Regions from separate parts of the Homo sapiens genome. Here region 1 is linked to region 2. Evidence: fine-mapped expression QTL. A gene starts in region 2. The other region holds a variant in brackets. All regions are shown on one strand. Distances are between the middles of the regions. Region 1 holds the start of LINC02289 (long intergenic non-protein coding RNA 2289). Region 2 holds the start of CIPC (CLOCK interacting pacemaker).

Region 1 (8,332 bases), 22 kb after region 2:
TCTCTCAGAAAAGGCAAATTTATTTCTTTCTCACTTGAGGTATTCATTGCAGATTGTCAGGATACTCTGCTCCACAAGGTCATTCAGGGATCCAGGTTCTTTGCATTTTCCTGTCATCTCTTAGGGCATCATTTTTACTAGCATGGCAAAGCTAGGTCTCAGGCAAGATCATGTTCTGGTTCAAGGGAAGGGGAAAGAGTAAGGATGAGACATGCCCACTATCTTTTTTTTTTTTTTTGAGTCTCACTCTATCACCCAGGCTGGAGTGCAGTGGCATGATCTCAGCTCACTGCAACCTCCGCCTCCTGGGTTCAAGCAATTCTCATGTCTCAGCCTGCCGCATTCCCACTATCTTAAGGCCTAGGTGTAATCATCTCTTCTGCCCATATAGTGCAAACTTAGTCATGTGGTCACACCTAACTGCAAGGTGTCCCCCAAGTGACTACTCACTCCAGGGCTGGGACTCACATGTACTACGATTTGAACTGCAAGGAAAATTGGGAAATGCTATCTCCAGCTGAGCAACTATGGACCCAACTACATATATGTTACTATGAAAAAATGGGAGGAAAAATCTTGGTAAAACTCTGGCAGTCTCCATTTTAGAGATCCATCTGAATGAACCATCTCAGATGCTAGTTTATCTTAGAGATACCTGAAAGAGTTCTTGTTTGTCACCTGGAGGTTGATTTGGACAATCATGGCACAGGTATTATACTACCACTCGGCAGAGTCTTCTTTAAACTTTTAGCTCTCACCTTAATCAATTTAAGAGTGAGCTTCTTTTTGGTATAAAGACTTTGGTAGGTCAGGTGTGGTGGCTCACACCTATAATCCTAGCACTTCAGGAGGCCGAGGTGGGCAGATCACTTGAACTCAGGAGTTCGCGATCAGCCTGGGCAACATGGTGAGACTCCATCTCTACTAAAAATACAAATAGTAGCTGGGTGTGGTGGTGCACACTTATAATTCTAGCTACTCTGGAGGCTGAAGAGGGAGGATTCTTTGAGCCTAGGAGGTTGAGGCTGCAGTGAGCTGAGATCTCACACTACACTCCAGCCTGAGCGACAGAGTGAGACCCTGCCTCAAAAAAAAAAAAAAAAAAGAAAAGAAAAGAAAAGAAAAAAAAGACTGTGGTAGCTATGTATTGCTTTTTGTCATCAAGAATCCTTTCACCTGTCTCCCAGTGGTAGTATGCTACTTTCCTCTTGGGAACCCCACTTCCCCATTCTTGATGTCCCACAGACAGAGTTGACTCCACTCCCAGATCCAGAAGTGGTTATGTGACTACAACCTGGCCACTTAGGCCATCACATTCCCCAGCCATGGTGTCTTGCTTGATGATGGATTCATGTTCAAGTCAGAGCCAGTTCAGTGGAATGAGACTTTTGCTGGGACTGCAAAAAGAAAAGCACTTCATGTTTTTTCCTCACAAGTCTCAGGCATAGGAAGAGGTGGGACTGGATTGCTGGCAGCCATCTTATCCCAACAAGAAAACGCTATGGAGAAGAGCAGCATCGGGGATAAAGATAAAGCCAAATCTTGGTGATATTGTTTGAATCCCTGGATCAAGCTTGGCCTGAACCAGCACAATGCCTAATCCCTGGTCTGCTTAGTTATATGAAACAGCATCCCAATTTAAAGTCATTTAGAGGTGAATTTTCTGTCACTTAGTGCAACCGAGAGAGTAATAACTGATGCGAAGGCCACATAGACTTGGCCTTTTTTTTTTTTTTCCTGAAGTATAAATTCCCTTAGCATCTGTGTGGCCCAGCACTACACTCTGGATCTCCTTAGCTGTCTGGTCACTGAATGGGGACTGCTACTTGGCCGTGATTCTCAACCAGGGGTAATTTTGCCCCCAAGGGACAGTTTTGTCATGGAGTTGGGGGAGGCGCTACTGGCATCTTGTGGATAGAGGCCAGGGATATTCCAAAACATCCTACAATGTACAGGGCAGCCCCGACAACGAAGAATAATCCAGCCCAAACTGTCATTAGTGCTCTGTAGATGGTTTTGGCTGCTATAACAAAATACCTTAGACTGGGTAATTTATAAACAATGGAAATTTATCATTCACAGTTCTGGAGACTGGAAAGTCCAAGGTCAAGGCGCCAGCAGATTCAGTGTCTTGTGAGGGCTCATTCCTCATACATGGTGCCTCCTCTGTGTCCTTGCATGGCAGAAGGGGTCAACAAGCTCCTTCAGGCCTCTTTTATAAAAGTCTTAATCCCATTCATGAGGGGAGAGCCCTCAGGACCTAATCATGTGGCAGGCAGATTGTCTGAGGTCAGGAGTTCGAGACCAGCCTGGCCAACGTGGAGAAACTCTGTCTCTACTAAAAAAAAAAAAAAAAAATAGCCTGCTGTGGTAGTGCACACCTGTAGTCCCGACTACTCGGGAGGCTGAGGCAGGAGAATTGCTTGAACCTGGGAGGTGGAAGTTGCAATAAGCCGAGATCACACCATTGCACTCCAGCCTGGATGACAGAGCAAGGCTCTGTCTCAAAAAACAAATAAATAGGCCGGGCGCGGTGGCTCACGCCTGTAATCCCAGCACTCTGGGAGGCCGAGGTGGGTGGATCAAGATGTCAGGAGATGGAGACTATCCTGGCTAACACGGTGAAACCCCGCCTCTACTAAAAATACAAAAAATTAGCCAGGCGCCGTGGCAGGCACCTGTAGTCCCAGCTACTCGGGAGGCTGGGCAGGAGAATGGCGTGAACCCTGGAAGCGGAACTTGCAGTGAGCCGAGATCTTGCCACTGCACTCTGTCTGCCTGGGCGACAGAGCGAAACTCTGTCTCAAAACAAAAAAAAACAAAAACAAAATAAATAAACAAACAAATAAATAAATAAATAAAGAGTGTTAGGAGCCTTCTCTCCTGTAAGCTGTGAACAACTAAGCTTGTTTAGGTCCTGAAATGTCACTGTCATTGTCAGCATGATAAATGCTTTGTGCTGTAATAATACAGAGAAACAGGATGTCTATTCCCCAAAGCCTCTGTGATGGAGAAGGTGGGCTTTCCAGAGGCTCTGACTGTGGAATGTGTCTAGAATCCTCTGCATGTTTTCCAGGTTCACCTCCACACCCTCATCTCTGCTCAGCCGGGTCCTTGCTAGGAGCAGGAACCTGCCTGGTGGGTCTCTGATGGCAGCCCCATGCTCTGCAGACCCCGGACTCTCCGCAGCCCCAGCTCCTGCCTTGTCCTGTTGTCTTCCACCAAGGGGCACCCTTCTTTAAAAAGCTGGACTCTTTTTTTTTTTTTTTTTTTTTTGAGATAGGTTCTTGCTCTATCACCCAGGCTGGAGTGCAATAGTGCAATCACAGCTCACTGCTGCCTCCACTGCCTGGGCTTAAGTAATCCTCCTGCCTCAGTCTCCTGAGTAGCAGGGACCACAGACACACACCAACACTCCAAGCTAATTTTTAAAAATTATTTGTAGGGATGAGGTCTCGCTATGTTGCCCAGGCTGGTCTCAAGCTCCTGGCCTCAAGGGATCCTCCTGCCTTAGCCTCCCAAAGTGCTGGGATTACAGGAGTGAGCCACTATGCCCGGCCCAAGACTGACTCTTAAAAAAGGACAGAGCTAGTCCCAAGCTTGTGCAAGGACAGTGAGAGAGGGGAGACTCAGAAGTAGCCAATTTTTCCCCCAGTAATTAATAAGACATTTAAAGGACTTATCAGGTCACCACAGCTCCATCATCCCTGGGGAATTGTTTGGTTTAGCAGAACTGTTCCCACCCTGCCCCCCTTTGCTTTCTTCTTTCCTTGCCCAGACCCCTCCCCCAACTTAGTTGACGTTGCACAAAGCTTTCAAAAAAACAAGTTTTGTTCCCAGGTCAGCTATATCCTCCCAGGAAGTTTCCCCATCCCAGGGTGAAGTCAGGCCAACACAGGGTGAAGAGTTAGGAGGTCAGGGGCGGGGGAGGGGCGGGTGTTTTGCACGGGACAAGGAGTTCTTTTTTGTTGTTGTTATTCTTTGCGTCATTTCCAGAGAGA[C/T]AGGAAGGAAAACATAGTAAACATTCTTCAATTCTGCACAAAAGCCGAGAAGGGATTTTCTTCAGGAACCTCCTTGTGGCTCTGCCATGGCGGGGAGGGTTGGGGGTAAGAAATATAAGACCCAATTCCCTGTGGAGGCGGGGATTCGGTGAAACCAATCCCTTGAATGTGGGGTGGAACCAACATGTAACTCAATTTGCTTTGGCTCTCACTGTGCATTTGAGCTAAAGCAAGGGAAGCATTTCCCCTTCCCCTGGCTGAAAGCTCAGCTGACCCCGAGGCTCTTCTGGTCATGCTTAGGTATGTACATTTTATGTCACGAAATCCAGTATCGACTTAGAGATTTAAAGCAGCCACCCAAAGATATTAAATGACTCTTGCATTTTTCTTCAAAGAGAAATCTTCTTCCTCCTGCCCTAGTTAAGGCCTTAGTTGGGGGCTGCCAGCTGCCAGGGACTGGGCATGGTGGCTTTTGTCTATTCTCTCCCGAATACCCCTCTCCCCACTTGCTGGTTGCTTTCAGAGTCTAAGTGGAGGTGGTGGGTGAGGATGCAGGGAAGCGGATGGGGAGCAGGGGAATAGGGCAGTTTTTACTTGACTGTATGATTGCCAGCTCTCTGGGTGTGGCAGATGGTGAAAGCTCTTTCTGGAGGGTTCCCTGTGTTCTTCAGAAGTTCCCATCTCAGCCAGGCTTGGTGGCTCACGCCTATAATCCCAGCACTTTGGAAGGCGGAGGCGGGCAGATCACTGGAGCCCAGGAGTACTAGACCAGCCCGAGCAACATGGCTAAACCTCATCTCTACCAAAAATACAAAAAGTATCTGGGGGTGGTGCTGCACGCCTGTAGTCCCAGCTACTTGGGAGGCTGAGGCAGGAGGATTGCTTGAACCCAGGAGGTAGAGGTTGCTGTGAGCCGAGTTTGGGCCACTGGACTCCAGCTTGGGCAACAGAGTGAGACCCTGTCTTAAAAAAAAAAAAAAAAAAAGTTCCCATCTCTAAGGTTTTCTCCTGAAGTTCCCTGTTCTGCACCTCCATTTCAGGTACAGCTATGACTCCATCTTCAACCCCTAGAAATCCAGCATCCTCTTCCAACTTCTTTCTGCTGACATCCCTTTGCCCTTCTCAGAGGCCCTACAGGACTTAAAATGACCCCCACCTTGGCCCTCTCTCCTGCCATGGTCCATCTGATCCACATGTGGCCCATGGGAAGAACTCACACAGCCCCTTCACTCATCCTAATGCAGTCCCTCCTGGCACAGTCCCATGGGGGCCCACAGCTCCAAGTGGCTGCATGGAAGCCCCCATCACTAGGCTTGAGTTGAAAGCAGTAGGGCCCCTAACTCCTTGGTGGGGTAGCTTACAGCATGGCTTTGCCCTTTCTGGAAGTTTCTATTTCCAAACTCTCCCCATTCTCCACACTCTATATTGTTGGTAGGCTGAGGGCCCTGAGTGCTATGCAACTGGTTCCCCATTATTTCCTTTGTAAATACTACATATGGGAGTCTGTCTCATGTTCAGTTTGCTATCTGATGATATTGTGGTAGCCTGCTTCCACAATGGCCCCTCATTGTCCCCATCTCCTGGTATTCACATCATTGTGTCTCCTCCCTCCGTGAACAGGGCCGACCCTTGTAGCCACTTGCTATTGCAGAGCTGATGGCATGCATCTTCTGAGGCTAGGTCATTGTTGTGTGTTTAATGATGTCCCCCAGAAGATATGTTGCAGCCCTAACCCCCAGGGCCTATAAATGTGACCTTTTCTGGAAATAGTCTTCGCAGTTGTAATCAAGGGTTGTTCTTGACTAGAGTGGGCCCTACATCCAATGACTGGTGTTCTCATAAGGAGAGAGAGACAAAGAGTAGACAGACACAAGGGAGAAGGCCGTGTGAAGATGGAGACAGAGATTGGAATGATACAGCCACAAGCCAAGAAACATCTGCGGCCGTCAGAAGTTGGAAGAGGCAAGGAATGATTTATTCTTTCCCACTCATTGTTTCACCAATGAGCACCTTCCATGTGCCACCGTTCTGACCCTGCTGACAATGTGGTTTCAGACTTCTGGCCCCCAGAACTGTGAAAGAGTAAATTTCTGTTAAGTTATCTTGCTTGTGGTACTTTGTTACAGCAGCCCTGTGGATCTAATATAGTCATAAGAGACATTGTGACCTCCTCCCTGCTCTCTTGAACCACTCATTCTGGGAGAAGTCAGCTGCCATGTCATGAAGCTACTCAGGGAGGTCCATGGAGAGGTCCACATGGCAAGGAACTGAGGCCTCCTGCCAGTAGCCAGCACCATCTTGCTGGCCATGTGAGCGTGCCATCTTAGATGCAGATCATACGGCCCCAGTCAAGCCTTCAAATGACTGCATCCCTACTTGACATTTTGACTGTAACCTCATGACAAACCCTAAGCCAGAACACCAGCTAAGCCACTCCCCAATTCCTCATCAAGAGAAACTGAGATAATAAATGTTTATTATTGTTTTAAGCTACTAAATTTTGAGGTAATCTGTTATGTAGCAATAGATAACTAATACTGATATCTGTCATATTGGGGCCTCAGTGTAACTTGGAACAGAAAGAGTTCCATATTATAATTCTTAAACATTACTTGGAATGGTTAGGGGCCCCAGTGCTATTCTCTCTGGGGATATTTCCAGCAATGGGCCCCACAGCCATTTATAGTGAGTTGTCCCACTTACTCTTTCACCAGTGAGCACTTTCCATGTGTCAGATGCCATATTAGAGACTGGGGCTATAGAAATGAACAGTCTTTTGGGAGGCCGAGGCAGGTGGATCACCTGAGGTCAAGAATTTGAGACCAGTCTGACCAACATGGAGAAACCCCGTCTCTACTAAAAAAAAAAAAAATACAAAATTAGCTGGGTGTGGTGGTGCATGCCTGTAATCCCAGCTACTTGGGAGGCTGAGGCAGGAGAATCACTTGAACCTGAGAGGCGGAGGTTGTGGTAAGCCAAGATTACACCATTGCACTCCAGCCTGGGCAACAAGAGTGAAATTCCATCTCAAAAAAAGAAAAAAAAGAAATGAACAGCCCTGTTCTTAATCACTTAACCAGTGGTCATTATGGTCTCTGCTAGTAGAGCACTATGGGCAAGAAGGACAGCACTGCTTTGCAGGGAAGGGAAAAGAGAGACATCACTGAGGCACTGAAGAGGAGAAGCATTCAGTGGTATGACCTTGAAGAGACAAGAAGAGGACCAAGTTCAAGAGTCTGCAAGAACAGTGGGAGGTAGAGCTGGAACTAGAATCCAGACACCCCACTTCTAGTCTTGAATTTGCGCTTCCTGAACTACACAGAGGCTGGCTCATGGTACCAGGGTCTCTAAAGATACCTGGAGGCATGAACTTGAATCCTGCTGGGATACTACTCTTTGAATAATAATTTCTCTATGGAAAGGCAGGGTACAAAGTCTTGGAATCTTGTTTCTGCTCTGCCATCTTAGCTAAATAACTCCCTTTGGAGATCCTTTGAACCCTGATAGATCAGCAAGCCCCCTCTGAAACATCATAAGCCTCAGGGCAAGAAGGCTGGCCTTCTCCTCCATCTGAATCCCAGCCCTTCTTTTTTTGAGATGGAGTTTTGCTCTTGTTGCCCAGGCTGGAGTGCAATGGCGCGATCTCGGCTCACCACAACCTCTGCCTCCTGGGTTCTAGCGATTCTCCTGCCTCAGCCTCCTGAGTAGCTGGGATTACAGGCATGCAAAACCATGCCCTGCTAATTTTGTATTTTAAGTAGAGACAGGGTTTCTCCATGTTGGAAAGGCTGGTCTTGAACTCTCGACTTCAGGTGATCCGCCCGCCTCTAGCCCTTCTTAGTAGTGGTGTTTTCTAAACAGGTTAGATAAGAATTTGACACCTGCTGAAATCTCCAGGCTGGCTCCTCCCAAGGTCAAATTGCACATCTTGCCAACGAGAACAGCCTTCACTTCTTGAGCATCTACTCAGCAGCAAGTGATTTCTCTAATCTTCACAACACCCTCTCAAGGCAAGGGATCATGGGCCACACTTGGCAATCTAGGAAAGTGAAGTTCAAGAACAAGCCCCAGGACACACAGCTAGTGACAGCGAGGCACAGAGCTGGGATTCCAACCCAGGCCTGTCTAACCCTAAAGCTCCTCCTATCCACCTCCTCCTTGCTGCCACAGAAGGTGACTCAGAGGTACTCAGTCTGGAGAATTCAAGCCAGTATCCCAGGAAGTGGAATTTTCTCCAGTGTTCTAGGAAGGAGGGATTACCATGGCATGGGGTGGGCCAGGTAGACACAAGAGGCAGTGAAGGTGCATAAAGTGGTGATTAAAGGGAATGG
Region 2 (8,332 bases):
CAGGCTGTTGATTTAGATTAGGAGGGTAGCTCATGTTAGTTGCAACTAATTAAGAACCTTACTTAGGTTCTTAGGTTCTTGAAGTTTCACATTATCTTACTAAACATGGATTATTTTACAGGTACTTTAGATAATGCATCCCAATTTAGTCTTCTACAATCCTTGCGGCAAAACAATGAAAAAGGTCTTGCTATTATTATTAAAGTGTAGTCAATAGAGCTACAGAAAATACACAGGAATTTATTCTGGCTTATTGAGAATTTGTAGGATAAGAGATAATTGATCATGGAGTCAAAATACTGAAACACTGACAATCGGTTTTTGAGGCTCAGAAAATAATACTCCCAAGTATGGCACTTTAGCATAATGAGCACTTTGTTGTTGCTTTTTGTTTTTTTCTGAGACTGTGTCTTGCTCTGTCGCCCAGGCTGGAGTGCAAGGCCACAAACACAGCTCACTGCAGCCTCGACTTCCTGGCCATAAAGAAATTATCTGACCTGTCTTGTCCGATAGCAGATCATAAAACCCTCATTCCAGAATGGGTCCTGCCCTATAACAGAGAGGAAGGAATGCTACACAGAGGTCAAGAATAATTCTGGACAGACAGACCTTGCTGGGTTTCCCACCTCAGTCCATTACTATTAGATCATACTCTTTTTGTTTTTGTTTTGTTTTTTATTTATAGATGGATCACACGCTGTTGCTCAGGCTAGAGCGCAGTGGCACGATCACAGCTAACTGCAGACTCGACCTCCTGGGCTAAAGTGATCCTCCTGCCCTAGCCTCCTGAGTAGCTGGGACTCCAGGCGCATACCACCACACCCAGCTAATTTTTAAATTTTTTGTAGAGACTGGGTCTTGCTATGTTGCCCAAGCTGGTCTCAACCTCCTGGACTCAAGCAATCCTCCCACCTCAGCCTCCCAAAGTGCTGGGATTACAGGCATAAGCCACCATGCCCAGCCAGATCATACCCTTTTTGTCCAATCATATTTCTACACAGCCGTCCATTCTTCATCAAACCTAACCATAAAAATAGACAGTTTTCCCTGAGTTTGGGAGGCTTCACTTCTGAAGACTCCTGTGTCATAAAAAAAACTTTGATTAAATAAAACTGTTATGTTTTTCTCTTGTTAACCTGTCTTTTGTTATGGGAGGGTCAACTATGACCCTTATGGTAGGTGAGGAAAGGTATCACAGAGGTAAGTTAAAAAGAGAACAGATGCTAAATTTAGATCCTGGGGAGTTGGTGGCAGTTGGAAATAAAGAATGTAAAATCGACTTTAGGATGGCAAATTGACTATTTTTCATATGAAAATGATTAAAAATATGAAAGCCTCTATCTTCAGTAAAGTTCTCTTAAGCAGCAAAAAGCCTTAGCATTGCAGCCAGGGAGGCTCACATGGGATGTAGAACAAAGGGCTACATCCCTCCCCAAACTTTACTCTTTCGGAGGAGTAGCAGCACTGCCCTCCTGGGAGTGGCTGAGGGACCCACTCACACATAGCACCACATAAAGCCTCACTTACTACTGGTGCTCTCAACCCCAAAATTTGCAAGGCAAAGTCTGAAAACCTCGGGAAGTTGCTTGATTTTTTTCCTCTTAGATATTAGTTTACAATAAAGTTACATGCTCACACTGACTAGGAGTTGAAAATGGATTACTAAGCTCTTACCCACTGTGTTCTTTCTGCTTCCTGCTTCCTGGCATAGACTGGAAATCACTCACGCTGCTTTACAAACACATGTACCTTATTCTGCATTAAAAGGGCTAATTTAGGCTCCAAAACTGTCAGAATTTACCCTAATTGGGCCTCTTATGCATGTATATGTAACACATTGTCCAAAAGTTTCCCAGAGAGGATAGTACACACTAAAACTCATAATGGAAAGTGAATCAGGCCGGGTGTGGTGGCTCACACCTATAATCCCAGCACTTTGGGAGGCAGAGGTGGATGGATCACCTGAGGTCAGGAGTTCGAGACCAGCCTGGCCAACATGGTGAAACCCTGTCTCTACTAAAAATACAAAAATTAGCTGGGTGTGGTGGCACACATCTGTAATCCTAGCTACTTGGGAGGGTGAGGCAGGAGAATCCCTTGAACCTGGGATGTGGAGTTGCAGTGAGCCGAGATGTTGCCACTGCCCTCCAGCCTGGGTGAAGAGTGAGACTCCGTCAAAAGAAAAAAAAAAAAGAAGAGAAAAGAAAAGAAAAGAGAGAATCAGAGCCAGGCAAGGTGGCTCACGTCTATAATCCCAGCAGCACTTTGAGGCACAGGCGGGCAGATCACCTGAGGTCAGGAGTTGGAGACCAGCCTGGCCAATATGGTGAAACCCTGTCTCTACTAAAAACACAAAAATTAGCTGGGCTTGGGGATGTGTGCCTGTAATCCCAGCTTCTCAAGAGGCTGAGGCACGAGAATAGCTTGAACCTGGGAGGCAGAGATTGTAGTAAGCCGAAATTGTGCCTCTGCACTCCAGCCTGGGTGACAGAGTGAGACTCCGTCTCAAAAAAAAAAAAAAAAAAAGAAAGAAAGAAAGTGAATCAATAAATATATAAGTTTATATAAGGGGACAAAATTCAAAATCCTAGCAAGTGCTCCAAAGCATTTAGCTCTTACTACTCTTTTTGCACTTCTGACATTAGTCTAATTATTTGTCTCCTCAACCTCGAGTTGTTTTTTTCATCTTTGCAACCTCAGCCCCCAACAATTAACATGAGGCATTCAATAGAGTAATAAATTCCAACAAATCTCTGACCTGCTGAGTCTCTGACAGCTCTAGTAGCTTAGCAGTCACAGAAATACCTGAACAGCTTGAAGGTCAAGATTCTGCATTTCCAAACACCACGGTCACCTTAAGATCTAACCTCCACGTCTGGTCCCCTGCAGGAAACAGATATTTGATCTACCCCTTATTCTAAGTTGAAACGTCAGGGACAAATCCACCATCCAAATTAAGGGTTGATCTAATCCACAAACAATCTTTGTGAAGATTTGTCCTTATGATTAAAAAGGAGATCCAGGGTTACAAGAAAAGGATCTGAAATGCTGCTTTCAGATCTCTCCTTTTATAGACACTTGGCAACATTCCTGGAAGCTCAAGTTCCCTTTAAAATGTGTCACGTGTATAACATGTGTGCCTGGACAGAAGTGTGAGGTAAAAGCCCAACCAGAGGCTTAAATACAATAAAGTGATAAGGTCACAGAAAGAAAACCTTGAGTAATCCCCGTTAGAATTATAAATACATTACTAGCTTTTCTCCGAAGTCATTTTCTTTTGGCCTGCATATTCAGGGATACCATTCTGGGAGAATGTCTGGGTATCTTAACAGTGGAAAAACCCTGTCTACCTAAATGTCTAATATTCATCTTCCCTTCCACATTCATTCCATTTCTCCAACTTGGCTGAAAATTCGTGTCAAAGATCCTGAACCCCAATTCCATACAATTTCCTATGTTTTAGACCAGTTTGGCTCTATTTTCACCTTTCAAAGGGGAGATGAGCTTAGAGAACTTTCTCCGATCCCCTGCTGCAATTAGTTCACAGTAACAGTGCCCACCTACCCATTCGCACCAGCCCACGTTGCATCTGTGCCAGGCAGCATGTGCACCCTCCAGGCATCCACCAGCCTGCCAGCTCAGCAGGGCAAAACTGGGCAGACCCTAGTACTGTGCTGTGACTGGCATACCACCAGCCTTCCAGGGCAAACGCCCAGGCAATGCATACTGCCAGGACTTGAGCAATAACAGGGAGCCTAGCTCCAGCCTGTGACCTGGGCCGGGATCAGAGCTCCCCCGAACCCACCCACTAACCACTTAACTCCTTACTTGGCACTGCCCACCTTCTCCCCAGAAACACTACCCCCGACACCAAGCCTGGCAAGCTGGCCACTCAGGGGAAACAACCAGCAACGAGGGTGACGGCAGGTCTCTGGAAAAGGCAGCACACCTGTGCCCTGGAGCCAGAACAGGGTACCACCCCCGACCTCAAACCGGAAGCCCAGGACCCTCGCCCAGTTACTAGTTCTGGCGCCCACTCACCTGCCCATTGCTTGGCCCTCAGCTCCCAGCCGGGCTGGACTCCAAGCTCTCTCCCCGCCCAGCCGGCTGGCGGTTGCGCCCAGGGCTAGACCAGGGCCCACCTGCCCCTCACACAAGCCTCCTCCCCACACGCAGCCCCCTCCTCACCCGCGATTCCCTCTCCCACGCCCCTCACAGCAAACCAAAGCCCTGCTCCCACCATTTGGCTCTCCGTCCTCCGAAAGTCCCGGTTTGCCCCTCTTGCCTACTCGCTCCTCTTCCTCTCTCCCCTACTTCCACCTCCTTTCCCCACGCTCCTCGCCCAATCCCTCTCCCGCCGTCATCCCTGCTCCCCTCCTCCCGGACCGAGCCCTCCCTTTCTCACCTAGGGCCGGGGTCGCAGCTCCACGACCGGCCTGTGGGTCAGGTGGCGCATGCGCGAGCACGGCCCCGCGGCACCATGACAACCTCGTCGTCGCTGGGTGTCTCGCTATCCCCACAGCCTCCCGCCCATTTCTCCTCCCCACGCCTCCGCGACGGCTTTCGCCAGCCACGTGACCCGACTCGGATGACCCGGCACCATGGAGACCGCACGCTGTTCTCCTAGAAGGGCCCTTGGAAATGCGCCCTTTCCCCGCCCCCGCCGGAAGACCAGGCCGGCGCGGGGCGGGGCCAGCGCTCAGAGGCCTACGCTCTGTCCGCGGCCGGCGGGCGTCTCTATGGTTGGTTCCTCAGGCCTCGCCGCCATTTTGTACGGGGGCCTTGAGCAATGAGCGGCTTGGGCAAGGTTTCCAGGCGGGGTTCAGAGGAGCCGGGGGTGGGGCCGGCTTGGAGTCGATACAGAGAGAGGAGCGACTCTCGCACTGTCTTGGTGCGTGCCGCCGTGCCGCCGTGCCGCCGTTGGGGGTGGGGGCCGGGGCGAGTCGTGTCCGGCCTGTGCGCGTGCCGGGAGCGACAGTGCCCGGCGTGGGAGAGCGGGCGTGCGGGCGGCCTCAGCCTGGAGTCGCCGTGACAGGGGTGCCAGACCTCCCCGCGTGCTCCTCGCATTTTCTCTACGCCTGTCGCCCTGTTTGTTTTTTGTTCCCGTCCACCCTCGAGACCGTGCTTCACGAGGTCGAGGCGCGATGAGTTATTTTAAGTAGATGATTTCATGACCTTTGATGTTTGACTGACTTTGTCATGTGCTATGGGTTTTATATGGATGCTGTTTCTTGGTGAAGGTTCACGGTGAACACACGTGTGTAACAGCTAAAGAAAAAAAGGGCTTGGGATCAGTTGACGTTCTGATGCCTTGAATCAGTGAAGGTTACTTAGAAAAAGAATTATTTCGCTAGTGAAAAAGAGGACATGGGCGAGTTTAAAGAGTTGACGGGTCGAGGCAGATTCAAGAGCTGAGCTGTCCAGTAAGATGGTCACTAACGACTGGATAAGTTTCTCAGTTGTACTAGCCACATTTCAGGAGCTCAGTGACCTCTTTATTGGACAGTGCAGATTATATATAGCCCATTCCCAGCATCGCAGAAAGTTATATTGGACAGTGCTGATTTAGATAGTGGGGAATTGTTTTATACTGGTCATCCAGGCCTTTGTAAGTGCTGCTAGGTCGTGGTTAATCACGTTAGTCCTCTAGACACAGGTAATTCTAATGTATTACTGGGTATGGGTGTACTTGTTAGTAGTCAGCTTTACCAACAAGTAATATGCCTACACCATGTAAGGCTTTTGTTTTGGGGACAGAGTGAAAGCAATAGTTAACAATTACCAAGTAATTAGGAGCCGGGCCGCTTTATATGCATCCTTTTATGATTCCTTACAAGTTTATGACGCAGGTGGTATTTTTTTCCAGTTGTGTGGCGTTTTTGCCCATTAGGACTCAACTAAAAACCCATGGCTTTGGCCAGGCACAGTGGCTGACGCCTGTAATCCCAGCACTTTGGGAGGCCGAGGCGGGCGGATCACCTGAGGTCAGGAGTTCAAGATCAGCCTGGGCAACACGGTGAAACCCCGTCTCTACTAAAAATACAAAATTAGCTGGGCGTGGTGGCACATGCCTGTAATCCTCGGGAGGCTGAGGCAGGATAATCGCTTGAACCTGGGAGGCGGAGGATGCGGTGAGCCGAGATCGTGCCATTGCACTCCAGCCTGGGCAACAAATCTCCGTCTCACCAAAACAAACAAACGAAAACCGTGGCTTTTATCCATGAAGCTATTAATATATTGCCTTCTTTTGAAGTGGAATAAAACAATCTGCCTTCAGATAACTTAAAATCTGATATGGGAAATAAGACGCGCTGTAATAAATAATATGAAAGAGAATGGGATAAGTACCAGAAGATTGTGAACAAAACCTAATTAATAAAATAAAGGGAGAAAAAAAAACTTTGTTTTTTTTTGGTTGTTGGAGTAGGAAGAGATCAGTAGGTAAATCTTTAAGGATAGCTAAAAGTTGGATTTGCAGTAATGGAAGTGGGTGAGAGTACGACGCACACAAAGCAAAAAAAGAATCAATGAAATAAGCAAAAGCATGAGGTGTGGTCCTATCTTAGTTTTCCGAAGGGGCAAATAAATAAACTATGAGAGGAATGAATTAATGGCATTTGCAGCAACCTGGATGAGATTGGAGACTTATATTCTAAGTGAAGTAACTAAGGAATAGAAACCCAAACATCGTATGTTCTCACTCATAAGTGGGAGTTAAGCTATGAGGATGTAAAGGCATAAGGATGATACAGTGGACTTTGGGGACTCAAGGGGAAAGGGTGGGAAGGGGGTGAGGGATAAAAGACTACAAATTGGGTGCAGTGTATACTGCTCAGGTGATGGGTTCACCAAAATCTCACAAATCACCGCTTAAGAACTTACTCATATAACCAAAATGCCACCTGTTCCCCAAAAACCTATGGAAATAAAAAATTTAAAAAACAGCAGCATGGATACTAGGCTTAATACCTGGGTAACGAAATCATCTGTACAACAAACCGCCATGACACAAGTTTACCTATGTAACGAATCTGCACACGTATCCCTGAACTTAAATAAAAAACAAAACAAAAATAAAATTCAAAAAAAAAAAGAATAAAAGTCTGCCTTCAAATAACTTACAATCTGATATGGGAAATAAGACATGATGTAATAAGCAATATGAAAGAGAATGGGATAACTACCAAAAGATTCTGAACAAAACAATAACATTAAGGGAGAAAAAAAAAACTTTCTTTTTCGGTTGTTGGAGTAGAAAGAGACCAGCAGGTAAAGCTTTAAAGACAGCTTGAAAGTTGGGTTTGCAATAATGGAAGCAGGTGAGGGGATAATGCATACCAAGCAAAAAAGAATCAGTGAAATATGCGAAAGCATGAGGCCCTCTTAGTCCTCCGAAGGGGCAAATAAACCAAACTTCCTTGACTTTACCTACATCTTGAGCAGACAGCCATGCTGTACCAATAACTTAAGCTTCAGACAAGTATTGTAATGGAACCAAATGAATCAAGACTAATGATAGGCATAATTTTTATGATTATTTTATGCTATGATTCTATATAATTAGATATACAGAATAAGCAATTCATGAAGATTGATAGTGAATATTTTTATGTAGCTAAACCACCGTAAACGTTTTTCTTCCTTTCCTATTAATTTACCAAGATTTGTAAATCAGCATCTATTGATAGTTTACTGGTGCCACGAATTCTTTAACCTTCACTCACTTTACTCTCTTTACTCTTGGTTGGAGTAAGGACCCTATGATGGATGGGGTAAGGACCCTGTGATGGATAGTGGGTTCTGAAGCACCTATTCTTCTTGCTGTAGGGTCCTTTCCAATTCAAGTTCTCCCCAGTACCATTGTGGTCTAGGTTCGGTTTCCTACCACCACAACCAGCAGGGGGAGACATGCGCCCTTAAATCCTACATTTAGGGACTTGCGAATGTTTCTTTTTTTTTCCCATCTACTTCTTGAAATTGTAACCTGCCTATCCGTGTGAGGATTTGAGTTTTTAACCCTGCCTAGGATACCATGAAGAGTCAGCCATGGGCCGAGTTTTATTTGAAGATATTTTAAGTGTATTATGTTATACAATTTAAAATATTTATAAACGATTGTTTAATAATTGTTGAATTTAAAATTAAAGTCATTTAAAAATATTTAAAAGTGGGCCAGGCGCAGTGGCTCACACCTGTAATCCCAGCACTTTGGGAGGCCAAGGCGGGCAGATCACTAGGTCAGGAGTTCAAGACCAGCCTGGCCAACGTGGTGAAACCCCGTCTCTACTGAAAATACAAAAATTAGCTGGGCATGGTGGCATGCGCCTTTAAT

The links.
Region 1: its variant is fine-mapped to the expression of CIPC in whole blood (TOPMed, PIP above 0.99).

The regions. Positions count from the first base shown.
Region 1 is chr14:77,072,074-77,080,405 of GRCh38, reverse strand. LINC02289 (long intergenic non-protein coding RNA 2289) reads left to right here and starts at 4,215. Exons shown (of 3, transcript NR_110553.1): 1 at 4,215-4,301. RefSeq lists a silencer at 4,066-4,360. The variant C/T (reference allele first, on the strand shown) is at 4,002.
Region 2 is chr14:77,094,435-77,102,766 of GRCh38, reverse strand. CIPC (CLOCK interacting pacemaker) reads right to left here and starts at 4,509. Exons shown (of 4, transcript NM_033426.3): 1 at 4,406-4,509. LOC124903350 (a long non-coding RNA gene) reads left to right here and starts at 4,749. Exons shown (of 2, transcript XR_007064275.1): 1 at 4,749-4,891; 2 at 5,867-6,302. RefSeq lists enhancers at 1,575-1,624, 3,739-3,898, 4,038-4,867, 5,229-5,278 and a silencer at 4,899-5,048.